Regions from separate parts of the Homo sapiens genome. Here region 2 is linked to region 1. Evidence: fine-mapped QTL for protein levels in blood plasma. A gene starts in region 1. The other region holds a variant in brackets. All regions are shown on one strand. Distances are between the middles of the regions.

Region 1 (5,221 bases):
TCAGGGAGACACCAGGGTGGTGACAGACCCGCCCGCGCTGTCACTCGGCATCCCTGGCTGCGTGGAGCTAGCAGCACAGGCAGCTGCAATCACTCCTGACCCCGAATGTGAGGTCCTGACCCACATTTGCAGCCTGAGGCCCTGAAGAGGGCACCAGCGAGGCACAGAACAGCGAGACCACCTCCACAGCTGCCTTGCTTTGCACCCTTCTTGGGAAAGGGCCCAGCCATCTCATGACCCCCACCGCAGAGAAGAGACCACCCACACATCTTCGCATGGTATCACCACCTGGGGCCTTCCCAACACGGTGGTGCTTTCTTGGGGGGTCGTGGGAGGTGCTCAGGCCACACCGGGGCAGCAGGTGCAGGGTGGGGGCCGGGGCCGGGGAGGGGTTCCCTGTCTCCCCAGTTATCAGGGGCCCAGCTCTGCCCCTGGGAAAGAGGCAACCTGCCCCTGGAGTAGGCAAGAGTGTGACACCCAGAGCCCACTGGGAGTGAACTGGCTGGTGTTACAGTCGGCAGCGCTGCGTGGGGTGGTCCCAGCATGGCCACCAGGGGGCAGCCTCGGCACAAAAGCCGCCCAGGAGATGGCTCCCTGCTGGGCTGGTGCCTGGTGTGTCGGGCAGAGGGCAGGTTTGGACTGGACAGGAAGACGAGAGCAGGGGAGAGTCCGCCCATCTCCAGCCTGCTGAGAGGAAACTGCAGGTGGAAAAGGCCTGGACCAAATCCAGGCTGGGAAAGGCAGTAGTTGGCAGGGTGCTTGTCAGGAATGCACGTTCCTGGGCCGCAGGGTTGGGGAGGGTCTGGGAACCGGTGTGCTGGACAGAACTCCCAAGGTCTCTGATCTTGCAAGTCTCCTACCAAAGCTCCAGCGAGAGCCACTGACCTTATTCCCTAAGAGCGGATGGTTCCGTAGGCTGGACACAGGGAGGGACTGCCCCAGACGGGCTGGGAACCATGAAGCCAGCACAAGCCTCTGTGGAGGCAGGGGGTGGATGAGATGGTCCTGGACCCTGCAGCTTGGGAGTCTCTGGGTGCCCGTGAGTGAGGAGGAAGCAGAGCAGAAAGGCTGTGCAGGGAAGCTGGGGGCAGGGTAGTGGTCCCATGCCTGGGGGCCCTGCCCTTCTCCCTCTGAGGAGGTCGACCTGCAGCCATGTGGGCAGGGCCAGTCATAGTGAAAGAGGAGGGGGCCAGGGGCCTCCAGCCCACCGGAGCCATCATCCTCCCGCTGCTGTGCCCAAACACCTTGGGCTCCCATCTGCGACACCGTGAAGCAGGTGCTGTAGGGGCCTCCCTGCTCTGGAGCCCCCCAGACAAGCCTCCCACCCTAAGTGCGCACCAGACAGACAGGCCACAGGAGGGGCCTTGGTAGTGCCTGCTGCAGCTGGGGGGCATGCCCAGGCCAGGGGCACCCCTCTCACCTGCAGCATTGTCGGCACCATTAGCATTGACCTGTTTTCCCCAAGGAGTGGGGTCCAGCCTGCACCAGTGCCGGCCAGCCCAACCCCCTGGCCAGTGGCTGCCAATGCCCTGGGTGTGGTCAGCTGCAGCAGCATAGACCCAGCGCCCAAGGGACTGCCCTGCCCCCCTCAGCCCTGCCCTCCAAGATGCTGAGACACCCAGGCCCCGGAACCAGGCCCAGTGCAGGGACAGACACACAAAGAGCAGCAGGTACACATGCCGTAGCCTGCGGCTCAGAGGGAGGCTACTGACCATCCCTGGGGGCATGCCAGTAGGTAGCACCCACTTTCCCTTGCCCAGCACTGCGGGACCCTGTGGCCTGACTTTGACCCCATTCAGGCCCCTCACCAGGCCCCAGACCTCAGGCCTAGCCCTGCCACAGCCTCCACCTAGCCAGCGACCCCACCACACAGCCACACAGTAGACGCAGCCCAGCCCTGCCTGGAAGCCCCGGACCAAAGTGGAGAGCCCAGACTCCTGGACCAGCCTGGCTGCTCTCCCGCAAAGCAGGTGAGAGGGCAAGCCTGGTGCAGGTGCCCCGGGTCCCGGCGGCCCCGGCTTTCACGCCCCTTGCAGACACCAGCCCTGCTCCAGAGTGCGGTAGCACCTCCCAGGAGGCCGCCTCTCGACCAGACAGCGTCCCAGGAGCGGGGCAGGAGCGAGAAGGAGAGACAGACAGGGACCGCGAGTGACAGAGGGAGTGAGCGACAGAGACGAGTCAGCCACCGAGAAACAAAGTGAGCGACAGAGACAGTCTCAGAGGCCGGGAGAGGAGCAGGAACCTACAGCCACGGACAGGTAGAACGCGAGGCATGGGAGAAGAGACTCCAGCGGCCGGGAAGGCCCAGAACCACGCGCGAGTCCCGCAGGCGTCTCCGAGTCCCCCGCCCCCAAGGCCCGCACTGCGCGCCCCTGGACACGCCCCGGCGCGCGCCCTCGCGCGTAGCCCACCCGCCCCAGGGGAGCGGGCTGCAGGCGGGGAGGGGCGCACCGCTGCCGGGGGTTCCGGGCCAGGTGGGCAGCACCATGTGGAAGCAGTCGCACATCGCGGCGGCCAGGCGGTGCGGGCCTGGCGGCCCGTCGCGTCCAGTCGCTGGTCCCGGCTCCGGCGCACGGGGCGGGCGGGCGGGAGCCGCGCTCTGCCCCGCTGCCCTGCGCTGCCGCGGGCGGCCGACCTCGGACTGCGGACACCGCGCGCCAGGCTACCCAGCCGCTCAGCTAGGACCCCGCCCGGCTCCGCCCAGCCCTGCCGGGCCACTGCGGAGCGCGCTCGCGGGCGGTGCCGTCGGCCTCATTCAGCCCATTGGCTGCCGTCGCCGCGGCCCCGCCCCTCCCAGCCAGGCCCCGCCCCACCCCGCGCCCCCGGCCCGCCTGTCGCGTCCGCAGAATTAACTTTGGACTCCCGCCAGGGAGCGACCTCTGGATCCCCGCACCGAGGCTCCTGGACTTGCCGCTGTCTTCACCTCCCATTCCGGGGGAGACAGACACTTTAGTCAGAAGCTGGGGTGGGGGGCAGCCTGCGGGGACAACAGGGGTCGCGGGCACCGCAGGAGGTGATCTGGCAGCATAAGGACAAGATAGAATTCTGCAGGGGCTGGTGGGTGGCAGATACGAGGACGCGGCTGAGAGCGTGCAGCGGGAACAGGGCGCCCCGGGCAGGGCTGCGGGGTGGGCGCCGCGTGCGGGAGCGCCCAGCGCTGGGGGCAGTCCTGGAGCCAGAACCCCGCCCAGAGTCATCCTTTCTGCTGATTCTTGTCAAGAGCCTAGGGCCTAGGACACAGCGGCAACCAGCACCCCACTGGCCCTGCCCCAGGGGCTCCAGGTCTGGCGTAGACACAAGCAAGCCTGTAAGGATGAGGCGTTCTGCAGGGCGGCACTGCCCTGGGGGCGGGGGAACGGAGGTCCTGGAGGGCTCCTGGCAGTGTAAGCTGGGACCTTAGGGGTGAGACATGTGCCAGGCAGTGTAGGAAGCGTTCTGGAGAGAGGGGACAGAGTAGCGTGTGTGCAGAGAATGGGGGCAAAAGGGCTGGGGTTGAAAGTCAGGCCCAGTGGGCGGGGGCAGGGCAGCAAGGAGGCTGAGGGGGCTCCTGTCGGTAGGAGGTGCCACTTAAGGCTCCAAGCAGGGTCTCTGAGCGTGGTGAGAGCTGAGGAAAGACTGCGCAGGTGGCTAGGGGTGTTGGCATGGGGCACAGCTGGAAACAGGAGCAGTGGAACCACGGCCATGGTATGGGAGGGAGTGAAAGGATATGCAGGCAGAGGGGACTTGGTGAGGATCAGAGTGCAGAGGGTGGGAGCCTCCCTGGGATCTAGCTTGGGCACCACACAGAGGCAGCACACCTGGGGGTGTGGACAGGGAGGGCAGGGGCCCAAGGGAGTTCTAAGAGTTTGGTGACGCCTGGCCTGGTGTAGACCCAAACCGGGCATACCCCAGAAGGAGTGGAGTTCTGCAGGGATTGTCGGGGAAGGCAGGGCTGGAAGAGACCCAGGAGAGGACCGCCACCTCCATGAGGAGCTGCCTGGCAATGTCCAGGGGTGTGGGTCAGATGCAGGGACACACACACACACGGACACACATACGGATACACACACACATACATACATACAGAGATAAAGACACAGAGACACACAGACACACACGGACAGAGACACAGACACACAGATACACAGGTACACATACAGACACACACACAGAGGCACACACAGACACACACAGAGACACACAGACACACATGGACAGAGACACAGACACAGAGATACACAGGTACACATAGAGGCACACTCACACACACACAGACACACACACAGAGACACACAGACACATACACATAGAGACACAAACACACATGCTCTGTCATACACACACACACACACACACACACACGGACACCTTTTCCTGGGGTGGGAAGAGGCCAGGCTGTACCGGAAGGGCCAGGCAGACACACACACTCATAGATAAGATCACAAACTCACCAAGACACAGACACAGGCCACCTGAGATATTTGATACACTCAGGCCTGCATGCATGAACACCCACACCAGGATACAGACCCATGCACGTGTATACATACACACAGGGGCACACGCATTCCTGGGCTCATTTGGAGACCACGCACAGCTAGCGGGCCCAGGTGAGCCACCCGGGCACGATGACTCACCCTAGACAGTTCCCGTTAGCCGCGCTGCAGCCACCGGGCAGCCATCCAGCAGCAGGTCAGATGGACGCCAGAGCCACTGCTGGGAAGAGGCCCTGGCAGCCTCCTGCCAGTGAGCCCAGGCATGATGGGCACAACCTTCTCCCTCGTGTGGGGACCTGGCGCAGGTCTTACCCCACCCCCTCGCAGTGTCCTTTTTTCGGGGCTGAGCAGTGTTGCCTGGGGTCCAGAGGCCCTGCACTTACCTCCCTCCCCAGGAGCCCACCCTGCTCTGGTCACCTGGAGTCAGTCACTCCCTGGACACAGGGAGAGAGCCACTAGGGTGCCTGGGTGCATACACCTCTGTGTGTGTCCCTGGATGTGTCTATGCCTCTGCCTGGTCTGCTGGGGTTTCGCCCGCTAGTCCTCTGTGTCTGAGTCTGGCTGCAGGGCCTGGGAACGAGGGGCCGCTCAGGGCACTCACCCACCTTTGTGTCCTCAGCCCCTTTAGGTGTGTGCCCTTGACAAAGTCATGTGGCCTCCTGGGTCCCCATCCAAATGAAGTGGCCCCTCTCCTGATTGTCTGGCGTGATCTGCGCAGGGCTACGGGGACTCCCCTTGGCTTTGCG
Region 2 (5,221 bases), 28 kb before region 1:
GCTGAGACACCTCCACGTCGGGGGCCATCACGTCCGTCTTGGGGCCTTTCAGGTCCAGCTTGGGGCCCTTGACATCTATCTGGGGGCCCTTGAGATCTACTTTGGGCATCTTGAAACTGGGCATCTGCAGCTTGGGCAGGTGCCCTTTGAGGCCGGCTCCCTCCGGCACGGGGCCCTCTGGGAGTTTCACATCCACTTGGCCAGCCTGGACCTCCAGGTCAGCGGAAGGGGGCTGAACGCTGAGGTCAGTGGTCTTGAGGTCCCCCTGCATGGAGGGGAGGCTCACGTCGGCCTCCACCTTCAACGCAGACACATCCGCTGAGGCCTCGATGGACTTGCCAAGGGCAGACACCCCAAACGACAGCATCTTGAACTTGGGCATTTTGAACTTGCTGTCTTTGGCAGTCACGTCCTTGTCGGCCAGGGACATGTCCCCCTCCAGCCGCGCACCATCCAGCTTGGCTCCTGGGGCCTTGACGTCCACCTCCACGCTGGGCAGAGACACCTCCACATCAGGGGCTGTCACTTCCACCTTGGGGTCTTTTAGGTCCAGCTTGGGGCCCTTGATGTCTATTTCGGGGCCCTTGAGGTCCACTTTGGGCACCTTGAAACTGGGCATCTGCAGCTTGGGCAGGTGCCCTTTGAGGCCGACTTCCTCGGGCACAGGGCCCTCCAGGAGTTTCACGTCCACCTGGCCAGCCTGGACCTTCACGTCGGCGGAAAGGGGCTGAATGCTGAGGTCAGTGGTCTTGAGGTCCCCCTGCATGGAGGGGAGACTCATGTCGGCCTCCACCTTGGGTGGAGACACATCCACCGAGGCCTCGATGGACTTGCCTGGGGCAGACACCCCAAACGACGGCATCTTGAACTTGGGCATTTTGAACTTGCTGTCTTTGGTAGTCAGGTCCTTGTTGGCCAGGGTCAGGTCCCCCTGCAGATGCGCACTATCCAGCTTGGCTCTTGGGGCCTGGACGTCCACCTCCATGCTGGGCAGAGACACCTCGACATCGGGGACTCTCATTTCCACCTTGGGGTCTTTTAGGTCCAGTTTGGGGCCCTTGATGTCCACCTGGGGGCCCTTGAGGTCCACTTTGGGCATCTTCAAACTGGGCATCTCCACCTTGGGCAGGTGCCCTTTGAGGCCAGCTCCCTCGGGCACGTGGCCCTCCGGGAGCTTCACATCCACCTGGCCAGTCTGGACCTTCAGGTCGGCAGAAGGGGGCTGAATGCTGAGGTCAGTGGTCTTCAGGTCCCCCTGCATGGAGGGGAGACTCACGTCGGCCTCCACCTTGGGTGCAGGCACATCCACCGAGGCCTCGATGGACCTCCCTGGGGCCGATACCCCGAACGACGGCATCTTGAATTTGGGCATTTTGAACTTGCTGTCTTTGGCAGTCATGTCCTTGTCGGCCAGGGACAGGTCTCCCTCCAGCCGCGCACCATCCAGCTTAGCCTTCTGGGCCTGGACATCCACCTCCATGCTGGGCAGAGACACCTCGACATCGGGGGCTGTCACTTCCGCCTTGGGGCCTTTCAGGTCCAGCTTGGCGCCCTTAACATCTGTCTGGGGGCCCTTGAGGTCCACTTTGGGCATCTTGAAACTGGGCATATCCACCTTGGGCAAGTGCCCTTTGAGGCCGGCTCCCTCGGGCACCTGGCCCTCCGGGAGCTTCATGTCCACTTGGCCAGCCTGGACCACCAGGTCTGCAGAAGGGAGCGGAATGCAGAGGTCCGTGGTCTTGAGGTCCCCCTGCATGGAGGGGAGGCTCACTTCGGCCTCCACCTTCGGCGCAGACACATCCACCGAGGCCTCGATGGACTTGCCTGGGGCAGACACCCCGAACGACGGCATCTTGAACTTGGGCATTTTGAACTTGCTGTCTTTGGCAGTCACATCCTTGTCGGCCAGGGACAGGTCACCCTCCAGCCGCACACTGTCCAGCTTGGCTCCTGGAGCCTCGACGTCCACCTCCACGCTGGGCAGAGACACCTCCACGTCGGGGGCCATCACCTCCGCCTTGGGGCCTTTCAGGTCCAGCTTGGGGCCCTTGACGTCCATCTGGGGGCCCTTGAGGGCCACTTTGGGCATCTTCAAACTGGGCATCTGCACCTTGGGGAGGTGCCCTTTGAAGCCGGCTCCCTCGGGAAGGGGGCCCTCCGGGAGTTTCACGTTCACTTGGCCAGCCTGGACCTCCAGGTCGGCGGAAGGGGACTGAATGCTGAGGTCAGTGGTCTTCAGGTCCCCCTGCATGGAGGGGAGGCTCACATCAGCTTCCACCTTCGGCTCAGACACATCCACCGAGGCCTCGATGGACTTGCCTGGGGCCGACACCCCAAATGATGGCATCTTGAACTTGGGCATTTTGAACTTGCTGTCTTTGGCAGTCACCGCCTTGTCGGCCAGGGACAGGTCCCCCTCCAGCTGCGCACCATCCAGCTTTGCTCTCGGGGCCTGGACGTCCACCTCCATGCTGGACAGAGACATCTTCACATCGGGGGCTGTCACTTCCACCTTGGGGCCTTTCAGGTCCAGCTTGGGGCCCTTAACATCTATCTGGGGCCCCTTGAGGTCCACTTTGGGCATCTTGAAACTGGGCATCTGCACTTTGGGCAGGTGCCCTTTGAGGCCGGCTCCCTCGGACACAGGGCCCTCTGGGAGTTTCACGTCCACTTGGCCAGCCTGGACCTCCAGGTCAGCAGAAGGGGGCTGTATGCTCAGGTCAGTGGCCTTGAGGTCCCCCTGCATGGAGGGGAGGCTCACGTCGGCCTCCACCTTCGGCGCAGACACATCCACTGAGGCCTCGATGGACTTGCCTGGGGCAGACACCCCGAACGACGGCATCTTGAACTTGGGCATTTTGAACTTGCTGTCTTTGGTAGTCAAGTCCTTGTCGGCCAGGGACATGTCCTCCTCCAGCCGTCCACCATCCAGCTTGGCTCCTGGGGCCTCGACATCCACCTCCACGCTGGGCAGAGAAACCTCCACATCAGGGGCTGTCACTTCCACCTTGGGGTCTTTTAGGTCCAGCTTGGGGCCCTTGATGTCTATTTCAGGGCCCTTGAGGTCCACTTTGGGCACCTTGAAACTGGGCATCTGCAGCTTGGGCAGGTGCCCTTTGAGGCCGGCTCCCTCGGGCACGGGGCCCTCT[G/A]GGAGTTTCACGTCCAATTGGCCAGCCTGGAGCTCCAGGTCAGTGGAAGGGGGCTGAATGCTGAGGTCAGTGGTCTTGAGGTCCCCCTGCATGGAGGGGAGGCTCATGTCGGCCTCCACCTTGGGTGCAGACAGGTCCACGGAGGCCTCAATGGACTTGCCTGGGGCAGACACCCCGAACGACGGCATCTTGAACTTGGGCATTTTGAACTTGCTGTCTTTGGCAGTCACGTCCTTGTCAGCCAGGGACAGGTCCCCGTCCAGCTGTGCGCCATCCAACTTGGCTCCCGGGGCCTGCATGTCCACCTCCACACTGGGCAGAGACACAGCCACTTCGTGGGCCGTCACCTCTGCCTTATGACCTTTCAGGTCCAGCTTGGGGCCCCTGACTTCCACCTGGGGGCCCTTGAGGTCCACTTTGGGCATCTTCAAACTAGGCATCTGCACCTTGGGCAGGTGCCCTTTGAAGCCGGCTCCCTCAGGCACGTGGCCCTCCAGGAGCTTCACGTCCACCTGGCCAGCGTGGACCTCCAGGTCAGCGGAAGGGGGCTGAATGCTGAGGTCAGTGGTCTTGAGGTCCCCCTGCATGGAGGGGAGACTCACGTCGGCCTCCACTTTGGGTGCAGACACATCCACCGAGGCCTCGATGGACTTGCCTGGGGCTGACGCCCCGAACGATGGCATCTTGAACTTGGGCATTTTGAACCTGCTGTCTTTGGCAGTCACATCCTTGTCGGCCAGGGACAGTTCCCCCTCCAGCCGCGCACTGTCCAGCTTGGCTCCCGGGGCCTCGACGTCCACCTCCACGCTGGGCAGAGACACCTCCACATCAGGGGCTGTGACTTCCGCCTTGGGGCTTTTCAGGTCCAGCTTGGGGCCCTTGACGTCCACCTGGGGGCCCTTGAGGGCCACTTTGGGCATCTTGAAACTGGGCATCTCCACCTTGGGCAAGTGCCCTTTAAGGCCAGCTCCCTCGGGCAGGTGGCCCTCCGGGAGCTTCACATCCACCTGGTCAGCCTGGACCTTCAGGTCAGTAGAAGCAGGCTGAATGCTGAGGTCAGTGGTCTTCAGGTCCCCCTGCATGGAGGGGAGACTCAGGTCGGCCTCCACCTTGGGTGCAGACACATCCACCAAGGCCTTGATGGACTTCCCTGGGGCCGATACCCCGAACGACGGCATCTTGAACTTGGGCATTTTGAACTTGCTGTCTTTGGCAGTCACGTCCTTGTCGGCCAGGGACAGGTCCCCCTCCAGCCACGCACCATCCAGCTTGGCCTTCTGGGCCTGGACATCCACCTCCATGCTGGGCAGAGACACCTCGCCATCGGGGGCTGTCACTTCCGCCTTGGGGCCTTTCAGGTCCAGCTTGGGGCCCTTAACATCTATCTGGGGGCCCTTGAGGTCCACTTTGGGCATCTTGAAACTGGGCATCTCCACTTTGGGCAGGTGCACTTTGGGGCCGGCTCCCTCGGGCACAGGGCCCTCCGGAAGTTTCACATCCACTTGGCCAGCCTGGACCTCCAGGTCAGCGGAAGGGGGCTGAATGCTGAGGTCAGTGGCCTTGAGGTCCCCCTGCATGGAGGAGAGGCTCACGTCGGCCTCCACCTTCGGCGCAGACACATCCACCGAGTCCTCCATGGACTTGCCTGGGGCCGACACCCCGAATGATGGCATCTTGAACTTGGGCATTTTGAACTTGCTGTCTTTGGCAGTCACCTCCTTGTCGGCCAGGGACAGGTCCCCCTCCAGCCGCGCACCATCCAGCTTTGCTCTCGGGGCCTGGACGTCCACCTCCATGCTGGACAGAGACATCTTCACATCGGGGGCTGTCACTTCCGCCTTGGGGCCTTTCAGGTCCAGCTTGGGGCCCTTGAGGTCCACTTTGGGCATCTTCAAACTGGGCCTCTGCACCTTGGGCAGGTGCCCTTTGAGGCTGGCTCCCTCGGGCAGGGGGCCCTCCGGAAGTTTCACATCCACTTGGCCATCCTGGACCTCCAGGTCAGCGGAAGGGGTCTGGACGCTGAGGTCAGTGGTCTTGAGGTCCCCCTGCATGGAGAGGAGGCTCACGTCGGC

Alleles and levels. Alleles are on the strand shown, and positions count from the first base shown. The strength of an association depends on the size of the effect and on how common the allele is.
In carriers of allele G in region 2, the plasma level of the protein whose gene starts at base 2,643 in region 1 tends to be higher than with A alone (moderate association).

The links. A credible set is the group of variants that fine-mapping cannot tell apart. PIP is the chance, under the fine-mapping model, that this variant and not a neighbour inherited with it causes the effect. Protein levels are from antibody-based Olink assays in UK Biobank. Linkage for the fine-mapping came from a reference panel and not from the study's own genotypes, which makes the PIPs less certain.
Region 2: its variant is the best candidate, but not a certain one, in a credible set for the plasma level of the AHNAK2 protein (UK Biobank, PIP 0.65). The variant lies in the coding sequence of AHNAK2. If it changes the protein, the assay may bind it differently, which can mimic a change of level.

The regions. Positions count from the first base shown.
Region 1 is chr14:104,975,732-104,980,952 of GRCh38, forward strand. It overlaps AHNAK2 (AHNAK nucleoprotein 2), which reads right to left and starts at 2,643. Exons shown (of 7, transcript NM_138420.4): 1 at 2,452-2,643. The coding sequence starts at 2,506. RefSeq lists an enhancer at 21-100 and silencers at 301-520, 2,627-2,786.
Region 2 is chr14:104,948,112-104,953,332 of GRCh38, forward strand. AHNAK2 (AHNAK nucleoprotein 2) reads right to left here. Exons shown (of 7, transcript NM_138420.4): 7 at 1-5,221. Among named protein-coding and RNA genes, the nearest start is that of PLD4, 26 kb to the left of the region's middle. The variant G/A (reference allele first, on the strand shown) is at 3,150.